3 separate regions of the Homo sapiens genome follow, and regions 2 and 3 are each linked to region 1. The links come from fine-mapping of genetic effects on gene expression. A gene starts in region 1. Each other region holds a variant in brackets. All regions are shown on one strand. Distances are between the middles of the regions. Region 1 holds the start of EDC3 (enhancer of mRNA decapping 3). Region 2 overlaps CLK3-AS1 (CLK3 antisense RNA 1). Region 3 overlaps ARID3B (AT-rich interaction domain 3B).

The links.
Region 2: its variant is fine-mapped to the expression of EDC3 in whole blood (TOPMed, PIP 0.99).
Region 3: its variant is fine-mapped to the expression of EDC3 in whole blood (TOPMed, PIP 0.98).

Annotation. Positions count from the first base shown.
Region 1 is chr15:74,694,372-74,698,552 of GRCh38, reverse strand. EDC3 (enhancer of mRNA decapping 3) reads left to right here and starts at 2,529. Exons shown (of 7, transcript NM_025083.5): 1 at 2,529-2,673. RefSeq lists an enhancer at 2,480-2,569.
Region 2 is chr15:74,606,557-74,610,737 of GRCh38, reverse strand. CLK3-AS1 (CLK3 antisense RNA 1) reads left to right here. Exons shown (of 9, transcript XR_007064715.1): 2 at 335-435; 3 at 507-1,136; 4 at 1,609-2,524; 5 at 2,723-2,839. It also overlaps a transcript of CLK3 not described here. Among named protein-coding and RNA genes, the nearest start is that of CLK3-AS1, 7.1 kb to the left of the region's middle. The variant TG/G (reference allele first, on the strand shown) is at 2,533.
Region 3 is chr15:74,591,324-74,595,504 of GRCh38, reverse strand. It overlaps ARID3B (AT-rich interaction domain 3B), which reads right to left. Exons shown (of 9, transcript NM_006465.4): 6 at 4,071-4,181; 7 at 3,691-3,945; 8 at 2,269-2,367. Among named protein-coding and RNA genes, the nearest start is that of CLK3-AS1, 22 kb to the left of the region's middle. RefSeq lists an enhancer at 489-989. The variant T/C (reference allele first, on the strand shown) is at 1,898.

The sequences.
Region 1 (4,181 bases):
ATGGAGCAAAGATAGGTTTTTCAACAAATTATGTTGGAACAACTGAATTTTCACACACATAAAAATGTATCAGGCCGGGTACGGTGGCTCACGCCTGTAATCTCAGCACTTTGAGAGGCCGAGGTGGGCAGATCAATTGAGATCAGGAGTTCGAGACCAGCCTGGCCAACATGGTGAAACCTTGCCTCTACTAAAAATACAAAAACTAGCCAGGTGTGGTGGCGGGTGCCTGTAATCCCAGCTACTTGGGAGGCTGAGACAGGAGAATCACTTGAACCCAGGAGGCAGACATTGCAGTGAGCTGAGATCGTGCCACTGCACTCCAGCCTGGGCAACAGAGTGAGACTCCGTCTCAAAAAAAAAAAAAAAATTATCTAGGCAAAGACCTTGCACCCTTCATAAAAATTAACTCAGAATGGATTGTAGACCTAAATGTAAAATGGAACACTATAAAACTCCTGGAAGACAACACAGGAGAAAACCTAACTGATCTTGGGAATGGCAATGACTTTAGGGCAATACCAATAGCATAATCTGTGAAAAATATAATTGATAAGCTGGACTTCATTAAAATTTAAAACTTCTGCTCTTCAAAAGAAGAATGAGAAGACAAGCCACAGACTAGGAGAAAATATTATAAAAGACGTATCTGATAGAGGACTGTTATCTACAATATACCCAGAACTCTTAAATCACAACAAGAAAATAACACAATGTAAAAATGGGCAAAATACCTGAATGAACACTTCATCAAAGAAGATATACACATGGCAAGTAAGTATATGAAAAGATGTTCAATATCATATGTCATTAGGGAATTGCATATTAAAACAATAAGATACTACTACACACTTACTTGAACGGCAAAATACTGACACCACAAAACGCTGACAAGGATGTGGAGCAACAGAAACCCTCATTCACTGCTGTGGGAATGCAAAATGATGCAGCCACTTTGAAAGGCAGTTTGGTAGTTTCTCCCAAAACTAAATATACCATCCAATCCAGCAGTTGCACTCCTTGGTATTTACCCAGATGAATTGAAAACTCATGTCTACACAAAAATCTGCACATGATGTATAGCGGCTTTATTCATAATTACCCAAACTTGGAGGCCACCAAGATGTCTTTCAGTAGGTGAATGGATAAACCGCAGCACATCCAGACGATGGAATATTATTATTCAGCACAAAAAAGAAATGAGCTATCAAGCCATGAAAAGACATGGAAGAACTTTAAGTGCATAAGTGAAAGAATCCGATGTGAAAAGGCTGCATACTGTATGATTCCAACTATATGGGATTCTGGAAAAGGCAAAACTATGGAGACAGTAAAAGGAGCAGTGGTTGCCAGTGGTTAGGGGACTGAGAAGGATAAATAGGCAGAGGACAGAGGATTTTCAGGGCAGTGAAACTATCGTGTATGATACCATAATGGTGGATACATGTCATTACATATATGTCAAAACCCACAGAATGTGCAACACCGAGAGTAAACTCTAATGTAAACTATGGACTCTGGGTGATAATGATGTGTCAAAGTTGGGTAATCAATTGTTACCAAATGTACCACTGTAGCACAAGATGTCCATGAGGGGACAAGTTGTGTATGTGCCTGTGTGTACAGGGGATATATGGGAACTCTGTACTTTCTGTTCAGTTTTGCCCTGAACCAAAAACTGCTCTATAAGTGTTCATTAATAACAGTAATTTTAAAAGACAAGGACCCCTTCTGACCTAGGGAATCTCTGGTGATGGAGGGGGAAGGGTGAAGCAGTCCCCTAGAAAGTGTAGATTTTACAAAGTTCTTCAACTGATTTTGTAGAGCTAGGTTTGGAACTGCTACCCTACTCTATGCTATTCGCCCAAGTAGTGGTTCCCAAACCAGGTGTCAGGCTTCAAGGCTGTGCAATATTCCTCATTACACGGTCTTGGCCCTAAACGCATGCTTTCCCGTCTCCCCACAAATCAAGACTCTAAAATGCCAGGGGTAGAAGAGCGGCACTTTCCTGTGTACTGAGTATGGGGGAAGGGAGAGCAGTCAAGCACGGACTGGCTGATTTTAACCCCCAAAAGGGCTGAAGCTGATACGCTTTGAAGATCGACCACGGCAGGAATATCTTGTTTTCTTTAATCCATCAGGGGGTTGTCGCACTTATTAAGTCCCACAGCTGCAGTTTAGCACGGAGGGGCTGTCACGTCACCAGGCCTCCCTGAAAGTCCTCCGCTCCAGCTCTGCGATTGGCGCTGGGGTAACAGGAGGGGAAGCGGGTGCTTTTCATCGAGCCTGCAAGAGGGGGGCCCAGGCATCGAGGCTGGGGAGTCGTGGGTAGAGCCCCGATTCCAGCCAAGACGCCACAGGACATAAGTAAGCGTGGAGGGCAAAATGACTACCCAAGCGCAATTCTGTAAGGCCGAAGGGACGTTCTTCCAACCTCTTAAATTTCCCGGGTGCCACGCCCCTCAATTGACGGCCCTGGATTCCAAGGTGTCGCGCCGGAAGTGACCTCACGGTGGTGGCGTGGAGACGTGGGGGCGCTTCCGGCAGCGGCGGCGGTGGTGAAGGCCGATGCTGTGGGGGTGGGCGTGGAGAGAATTCTTCTGTGGGTCCTCTGGTGTTGAGTGGTCGGCTTGGTGTGGTGTGCGGAGGAGCTCCAGGCCCGTCGGCGCGGAGGTGGGAGCGAAGGGAGGCTACTGGTTTGTGGACGGTCGTGGGAGGGGGCTGCCGGGGTTGCTTTAGGCTTCAGAGTTCCAGGCCTCGTAGACCTTTATAGAGGCAGGCAGGCAGGCAAGAGCTGGGGGCTTCATCGGATGAGCAGGGGACCACGTACTACGGGCGGCCCCAGGAGTTTGGTTTGAGGTGGAAGGCTGAGGACTGCAGGATTCTAAATAGTATGGGGATTGTGTGGGGAGTGAGGCATTAGCTGCTTGGGCCCTTAGTCCAGCCTTGTTGGTGGCTGCTGCAGTTCTTTGGCTCACTCACTCTGTTCTTCGTGCCTCAGTTTCCCTTTGCATAATGAGATACGGTGGCAGAGAAGAACGCCAGTGCCACATCCATGACTGATAGCTTGAGGACGGAGATGAACTGGAGGGTAGAAAAAGAGGATGCCTGAGAAATTTATACCTACCAGGTCACATCTTCGAATCCCAGGAAGTTATCCCTGGATTCATTTCTGCCTTTGATGCAAGTCTGTGGTTCTTTTCAGTACACTTTGTGTGATATTGATTGTATGTATCAATACTTGACTTGCTGAGTGGTTAAAGTGTTTTGGTTTGTGGGAGGCATAGTCCTTGTTGGCTTGGTCAGTTAATTTTCAGTTAATCTCCCAATAGCAATTGCTTCGCCTAACTCTTCAATTGGGAGATTAGTTGAAAATCAACTGACCAAGCCAACAGTCTTCTCCTGTGGTTACAGGTGAGGAACTCGCGACCCAGAATGGTTTTTCTTCTCTTCCTTCGCCACAGACCAAACCGATTTCAGTCTGCTGTCTCAAATACAGGTCTTCACCCCACCAAAACAGAAATGGCTGTCTCCAAGCAGTTTAGTATTTCAACTGGACACCCAGATGGATCCTAATCTTTTTTTTTTTTTTTAATGAATGGCAGATTACGTGTACTGAGCACAAAATCCTCTTAGCTAGTTTCTCTGTATGATGTAAAAACATGACATTTTGTTTATTACCAATTTCTTGGTAGAGCCTCCTTGGCATAGGGCTGTGGGGCTAGAAAAGTGTCTCAAAATTTTTTACCTGTGACCCACAGTTAGATATATTATACATCATGACTTATTGTGCCCCTGCACACTCAGTGTGTACACACACACACACACCAATGAAAAGTTTACTTACCCTTTCTACAGAAGATGCACTCTAAAAAAATATTGGTTGCAACTCACTAAATTGAGTCTGACCCCTAATAGGTCATGACGTATAGTTTGAAAAATATTAAGGCCGGGCACTGTGGCTCACGCCAGTAATCCCAGCACTTTGGGATGCTGAGGCGGGTGGATCACCTGAGGTCAGGAGTTGGAGACCAGTCTGGGCAACGTGGTGAAACCCCGTATGTACTAAAAATACAAAACTTAGCTGGGTGGTGGTGGGTGCCTATAATCCCAGCTATTTGGGAGGCTGAGGCAGGAGAAACGCTTGAACCTGGGAGGGAGAGGTTGCAGTGAGCCAAGAT
Region 2 (4,181 bases), 88 kb after region 1:
CTGCTGGCCTCCACCCTGAAGCTGTCAGCAGCTGGAGAGCAGCTGGAGAGGCGGTGTATCTCGGGCCCAGCTGGAGGTAGAGATGCACAGCTGGAGCCTGTCGTGATAGATAACAGCCAAAAGCAGCCCCTCAGGGCCCCAGGGCACAGTCCCTTGTATATAAGCCAGGGCATGGGTCCATGTTGGGCTGTCAGCTGGGCTGCTGGCTGCCAGTCCGCCTGCGTTATCAAAGGCTGCAGACACTGCCCTGCCTGGTGGGAGGCAGGGAAGCTAGCCCTACCTATCTGAGGCTCTGTGCTGCCTTCAGCCCTCCCACTCAGCCTCCTCCTAGCAGGTGGAGTGCTCCCTGGCCTGCCTGGAGCAGGAGAGGCACCAGATGCAGGGATCCCAGGGACAGGCTGAGTGGAGGAGGCCAGACCAGAACATAGAAGACAAGTGAGTGGGGCTGGGCTGTGGGGGAGGGGTGGGGTGGCAGGGAACAGGCAGACCATCCCTTCTACCCACAGGATCCTGCTGCTGCAGACAGAAGTGGAAAAGGCCTAGCGGCATTTGGACCAAATGACCCAACAGCCTGTTGGCCCAGAGCCCAGCCTGGGGATCCCCCAAGTGGGTGCATGGCAGGCCCTGCGCACTGGCCCTGCTGTACCTTTGACTCTGCCCCACACTTTATTCTCTGGTCCTCATTATTGAAGCATTATCTAGAGAAGGAAGGCAGCGCAGGGGCTTAGTCCAGCCAAGAGAGGGATCCTCTTCCAACATTTGGGAATACCCTGGGATCATTCAGTGACTTCCCTCCTGGTTCAGATGGGAAAACTGAGACCAGAGAGCAGAGGAGAGCTTGTTCAGAGTCATAACTTGAGTTGGGGCCAGGACCCTGCCACAACATGCCCTGAGGCATCAACGGTCTGCCAAGACCACCCCAGTGTGGTCTGGAAGCTGGAAGGAGACCCCAGGATTCTGGACCAAGTGTATCTACAGGAGATGCTGGTGCCAGGCCTGCAGATCCAAGAGCAGAGCTGGGATGGAGGCAGGGCCCAGGAGCTTCGGGACCCAGAGTCTCCATGCCAGCAGCTGAGACCCCTGCCCAGGCTCAGGACACAGTCCGTCTGCAGGAGCAGTTGCTGATACTCACTGAGGTTGGTCAAGACAGCTGGCAGGGGCAGCCCCACAGGAAAGGGAATCTGGGCATTAGCTGATCCAGGCCATGCCCATCTGTACCAGGGGGCAGAGGCAAGGGAGCCTGGGCCCCATTCCTGGGGGATTCCAATGTAGGGCAAGGGGCTCTAGGGGCACAGAGGAAAGGAGAATGACCAGGAGAGAGAGATTCTAGCAGGGCGTCCACACAGTGACACTCCAGAGAGCACCATCCTCATCTTCACATAACTGGCCCCCCTGCTAGTGTGCAGCCAGGCACTGGTCCAGAGTCGTAGCCTGGAGTGTAGAGAAGCCTCTGCGGGCTGGGGTGGTCAGAGAGGCCTCCTGGAAGGGCTGAGACCCAGAGGAAGTGGAGTTCGGGGCCTCTGAGGAGGGGCTGCATGGGTAAAGGCTGGAGCTCCACAACCCTGGTGGAGGCTGAGCCACAACTCGGTGGGGTGGGGATCTCCCCAGGTGAACAAGAGACTCAGAAGAGCTGGGCCAGAGCCACCAGCAACTAGGGGCCTGCTTGGAGCAGCTGCAGCATCTGCAGGGAGAGCAGATGGTGTTGGGGGGCCATTGCAGGCCCTGGAGGCAGAGCACACCTGGCTACTTCAGGAGAAGGTGGGGCTGCTAGCAGCACTGGGTGTGGCCCCGGGCCAAGAGTCCTGGTAGGTGGCTGCTTGGGCCCATCCTCAGAGTGTCCAAGCCAGGCTGGGGTGGGGGCTCTGTTCTCACTGTAGGTGAGATGGCCCTCTCAGCAGGCGGTGGGCCAGTCTCTGTCACCAGCTGGCTGAGGGGGAATGGCCCAGAGCCCTAAACCCGGAATCACACGACCAGAGCCAGTCTCCCTTCCCCAGGTATCAGCGCTCCTGGTTGTCACATTCTGGCTCTTTTATGGGGTGGGAAATCTTTCAGCTTCAAGAAGTCCTGTCTCGCCTACATATGGCCAAGCCCCTCCTGCTGGCCCAGGGGCAGGTGGGAGGTGGGGGTGAGATGACCTTAGCTGCTGGGTGCAAGTCAGGGTCCTTGGGAGTAGAAGTGCCCAGTACAAAGGGGTTCTGTGTGTGCAGGGAGCCATGAAAGAGGCATCTCTGCCCCACTCCCCCTCCTAGTTCATAAGACAATAATCACTGAAAGGGAGTGGGGTGGGGGTGATCTGGGGTCCATGCTGTACCTGGACTGCACCATTTCTTCCAGTACACTCCAGGTCCTGGAGGTACCAGTGCCCCTCAGGAAAGAGCTAGAGGCACAAGAATCACATCCCAGGCTTCATGAGGAGATGGCTGAATATTGGAAGGCACGCTGGCACCGGCTGGCAGTTGCCCTGAAATTTAAAGAGGAGGAACTGCAGAGACTCCAGAGGCAGAGTGGGACCTGGCCTCCCCAGGTGGGCAC[TG/G]TCTCCCACCTTCTTCTCCACCCCCTCAACCCCGTTCTCCCCATTGTCTTCCCCACTGCCCAGTCTTTCCCATACAAACCAATTAGTCTCTTACCCCTCCTTAGGATGCCCCCATCTTGATCCTATACTTCCTTCCCATTTTCTGCCTCTTCCTCATCATGCCCCATCATTCTCCATCCATGTTTTCAGCATGCATTTATTGAGCATCTGCTACATGCCTGGCCCTCTTCTGTGTGCAGAAGCAATGTCAAATCAGATCACTCCTTGTCCTCAACAGCTTATGGTTTGGGGGCACCCGGTAATTGAGTAAGCAATTATTTATTTATTATTGATTGATTTATAATCGATTGATTGATTGCATCAGGGTCTCTGTCACCCAGACTGAGGTGCAGTGGTGCAATCATAACTCACTGCAGCTTCAAACTCCTGGACTCAAGCGATCCTCCTGCCTCAGGTAGCTGGGACTGCAGGCACGCATCACCATGCCTGGCTAAGTTTTTTTTTTTTTTTTTTTTTTTGTAGAGATGGGGGTCTCACTACATTGCCCAGGGTGGTCTTGAACTTCTGACCCTCAAGCAGTTCTCCCACCTTGGCCTCCCAAAGTTCTGAGACTACAGGCATGAACCACTGTGCCTATTTTGCAAGTAATAATTTAATGTGCCAGATGAGGGAAGAGGCACAGTGGGAGCTGGTTAAGGGGTGGCAGATAGGAGAGTCCCTCCCAGAGAAGGGGTTTCTGAGCCTCTGAACCCTCACACAAGGATAGACAGGCATTTTCCAGGAGGAGAGAGGAAATGAAGGGCATTTCAGCAAGAGGAAACTGCACATACATATACCCAGAGAGACAGGGGAGGAGTGTTGTAAATAGCCCCTGATCCACTTGAGAAGGAGAGTGGGTGAGGGGGTTACTATGGACATGGGACAGGGGCCAGATCTAGGGTTTAGATGTCCCAGCTCCTGTCCACCTGACTTCACCTCCAGCTTGGTGGCTGCCTTCTCCTGGTCAGCATCCCTTAGTCTCCTGGGCAAGTGTATGTGTGCATGGACAGACAGACACACAGACATGCATGCACACACACACCCCCAGGATACACATCAGACATCTGCAGACACCCCCAGATATGCACACACACAGACACAGAGAGAGATACAGACACCAACGAGGTGCCTGGGAGCCATAGGGAAGTAGTATTCTAAGGACCCCATGTGGGATCCACGCTCTGCCACAAGGCACCTGACTGAAGCTGATCTGCTGATCTCGATGGAAGGAAAAGGAGAGAAAGCTTAGCTGGCTTTGGGCCTCATAAAGGTTGAGTTGGTCTAAATCAGTGTATCTCAAATGGGTACACAACTGTGCTCATAGGGGGCTGTTCCTTAAGTCTGCAGTGTAGTCTGCCACTATATATTTGTACAGAGGAAAATCTCAGTTTTTTGTTTTGTTGTTTTTTTTTTTTGTTTGTTTGTTTTTGTCTATTTCTCAAACCAGACCCTTGAGGGTCAGAAGATATATCCTCAGCGCCTGGATGGGCTATATTCTTTGGTCAAGTCTGAGGACTTGCAGTGGGCAATGTCAGTGAGAAGGTAGTGGAGTGACAGAGGGCTGGGCCCTCGGCAGATTTGTCTCCTAGCAGGAAGAGGTGCTAGGTGA
Region 3 (4,181 bases), 100 kb after region 1:
TGTAGACACTGTGCTAGGGGGTGATGGGAGAAGATCCAAATGCTGTCCTGCCTTGAAGTGCTGATGGGCTGGGGAGGGGGACAGATAGGTCGACAGAGTAATTTTGCTAAAATGTCATAAATGCTCTGAGACAAGGTGTACCCAGGGTACACAAAGAGGAACACCAAGGCCAGGTGTGGTGGCTCACAACTATAATCCCAGCACTTTGGGAGGGTGAGGCAGGAGAATAGCTCAAGGCCAGGAGTTTGAGACCAGACTGGGCAATACAGCAAGAGCCTTGTCTCTATAAAAATTTTTTTTAAAATTAGCTGGGCATGGGTAGTCCCAGCTACTCAGGGGGCTGAGGCAGGAGGATCACTTGAGCCCAGGAGGTTGAAGCTGCAGTGAGCTATGACCGCACCAATGCACTCCAGCCTGGGTGACAGAGCCAGGTGGGGTGGGTGACTGGCTCCCTTCTTGTCAGGGGTTTGAGGAGCCTTCAACTTCTGACCCTTCCTCATTCTGAGAGGGAAGGAGTTACCTTCTCCTTTCTCCTTGACAGAGGACAAAAGGATATCAAGATCCAGGCCTTGAATTCCTACTTCCCTGCTTTCTCCATGGACCTAATTCCAACCCCCAACCCTCCCAAACCACAGCACAATGAAGAGGCAAAGGGCACCAGGCCCCACCTCCTCCAGGGGCCTCCTGTGACAGGTAGAGACCTCTGAGCAGAGTCTGCAGACATAGCATGACTGGTGAGCCCACTTGGCACCACTGCTCCTCTACACTCTGTCCTCTCTCTGAAGTGAGTGGCCCAGCAGAGATCCAGAGCATGCTCCCAGGAGGCCTGCAGGGCGGTGCTCTGAGGGAGTGTGGCCCTTAGAATGGGAGTAGGCCCTGAGGAAACACTCCCAGTTGTGATAGAAGGTGCAGTTGTAGGGCTTTCGCCTGTCTCCACGAGACACCTTGCCAGGCTGGCTGACACTCCGCATGCCCTTGGGCCCTTGGTAAAACAGGTGGGTGATGCCCTGGGCCAGGCCTGGTGGCCCCCACTCATAATACTGTGCTTTTTTTTTTTGAGACGGAGTCTCACTCTGTCGCCCAGGCTGGAGTGCAGTGGCGCGATCTCAGCTCACTGCAAGCTCTGCCTCCCAGGTTCACGCCATTCTCCTGCCTCAGCCTCCCGAGTAGCTGGGACTACAGGCACCCGCCCCCACGCCTGGCTAACTTTTTGTATTTTTAGTAGAGACGGGGTTTCACTGTGTTAGCCAGGATGGTCTCGATATCCTGACTTCGTGATCCACCCGCCTTGGCCTCCCAAAATGCTGGGATTACAGGCGTGAGCCACCGCGCCCAGCAATGCTGTGCTTAACAAGAGTCAGGTGGGCTTGTTCCCAAGCTCGTCCGTAAACCAATGAAATGGGAATGGGAAAAGGACTGCTGTTTTTATGAATATTAAGTTTTGTTTTTTTTTTTTTTAATTGAGACAAGGTCTTGCTTTGTCACTCAGGCTGGAATGCAGTGGTACAATCACGGCTTACTGCAGCCTCGACCTCCTGGGCTCAAGTGATCCTCCTGGCCTCAGCCTCCCAAGTAGCTGGGACCACAGGTGTGCACCACCATGCCTGGCTATTTTTTTTTGTATTTTGTAGATTTGGGATTTTGCTATGTTGCTCAGGCTGGTCTCAAACTCCTGGGCTCAAGTGGTCCTCTTGCCTCAGCCTCCCAAAGTGCAAGGATTACAGGCATCAGCCACCGTGCCCAGTCATGAATACTAAGTTAAACCCTTAGAAAGACTCTGTAAAGGTGCGAAATCAACCAACCAACAAAACACTGTTGCCAAATTAGGTTTAGGAAAAGATAACTGTAAAAGACTGGGGGGCAGGGAGCTTAACAATGTAAGCTGATTCTCCTATAC[T/C]GGGGTTCCTTTGCCTGTGTCTCAGTCTGCAAAAGGAAGAGAAGAGCTGAATTACAGTCAGAGAAAGGCTGTGCATGAGAAGACCTGGGGATTGTGGGACACTGACTGACTTCTTCAATTAACGAGCCAACCACTGGTCTAAAAGGGTTAGGTGAAGGGTTTCTGCCAAAGTGGGAGGGACCTATCATCCTGTTAACAATCCACAGTCTACTAGTCCAGAGGACCACTTGACCTTTGCAACTCTGAGACCAGGAAAAAGGAAGCCACTGTGGGAGGTGTTCAGACAGAGGGTAAGAGGCAGGGCCAGCCGCAGAGCTGCCCTGTGGCTAGCTGCGGCCACGTGGGCCTCCCCCAGAGCTCCAGGGCCTCACCTGCATAGGTGGTGCCATCGATGTCCACAGACATGTTAATGCTCCCAATGCTACTCGTGGTCAGGTTCAGTGCTGCAGCCGAGGCCTCTGCTCTGTCTTCTGCTGGGGACAGGGAGACAGTGGGCCTGGTCAAGCCTTCCACAGCACTCCTGTTGTCCTCTCTGATGCTGCCTGGCCACCCCTGGTCAAAGCCTCACGCTGTTAAAAGGCATCTATGTAACCTTCTCCTGAGTGTAGGGTATGGCAGGAGATCCCAGGCTCGCCAATCTCCTGTTGCTGGCTTTTTCCACTGACCCAGTTCATCCCCTCAACTACCTCTGCTCCCAGAGAAAAGGAATCACAGTAGGCAAGGAGGCCGGCTCCGGCCCCACCACTCTGCACTGGCACTTTCCAAGTGACGGGCAAACCCTGAACTACACTATACACCAGGCCCAGGAAATCAGAGATCAATGAGACCCAGCCCCAACTTTGAGGACCCACCTGCCCTTTCTTTCCTTTGACTCTGAGTCCCTCAGAGAGAGGAGTCTACGCCCTCAGCCCCTCCCCTCCATGACCACCCAGGCAGCTGGCGTTTGTGGAAGCCTGCAAGTGCTGGCACACACGGCCTTTGGCTGGCTCACCCCAGACTCAGAATTCTTCCCGGTGAGCTGTCTTTTCTAACAGCCCTTTGCTTTGTGCAGGAGCAGGGTACCTGGCCCTGGATGAGCTGTTACCTCCCAGTTTCCTTCTGGTCCCCAAGGGCAATGGGGTAGGAGGGGCAGCCTGGGAATATGTATAGCTCCCTTCACACCTGGCTCCTTCCCACACATCTCATTCATGTTTGCTTTGAGATAGCATCAGGACCAGAATGGGAAAGAATGTGTGTGAATGGGAAAAGGGGCGTGTGGCTTGAGGAAGAGAATGTGGGGCACCAGAACAATGTGAAGAGGAAGGGAAAGGATGTCAATTATGCTGCCAAACTTGTGTTTCCTCCTTCTGTCTATATTCCTGAGTCCCACTGTCCAGCCCGGGGCAACTTGGCCCCTCGCTGAGCCTCAGGAACATGGGGTGTCTTCCTCCCAGACCTGCAGACGGTGCCCTGCTCTTGCCTACATCCAGTGAGGTGCTGGGGTAATGGCTGGTGGGGAAACGCAGCAGCTCTCTGAAGGCCTCTGGCTCCTCCTCTGTGAATAACTGCTTTTCCCTCTTACTAGAGAACAGGGCACTGCCTGAGGCAACATGTGGTCCCCTCTACCAAACAACCTCAGCTTGGTGAACTAAGATCTCAGTGCCTCTCTTCTAGGGGCCTGGAAGGCAGAACCTGGAGGGGCCTCTTCCAGGTCAGGAGTATGTGCCTCACCACCCCTGCCCCACCAGTCCCAGGAGGCGTGAATGGGCTTGGGGTTTCCAGGAAGGGAAGGCCCGGCCCTGAGCCTGGCTCACCCCTGCCGTTGATCCTGATCTTCATGGGGAGCTGCCGTGCCATGCTGAAAAAGTTGCGCTGGAAGGCCTGCTGCACCAGGCGCTGCTCCTCCTCAGACAGCCTCGATGCCTTCTTCTCAGCAGGCTCCCCTGACTCCAGCCGCTCCCGCAGCTGCTCCAGTGCGGCGGTCCGAGTACCAGCCTGCTGGCTTGCCAAGGTCACGGGCACAGCCAGACGATTTGGCACAGGCACTGTTGTCACTGGGGCTCCATCACCTGCAAAGGAACTGGAGCTGGACCAATCCACAATTGACCCTCTTGCCCCAAAACCCCAGTCTTGAACACAGGGAACTGGCATCCCTTCCTCCCTTTCTTCCTTCTCCCCCAGGAGCCCTGCTGACCTTTCCTGAGAGTGGTTGCTGGGGATATCCGAGGGCTACTGGTATTGGTACCACTGCTGGAGCCAAGCCCAAGGATGGGAAAGCGGATCTTGGGTGGGGAGAGAAGGGCAG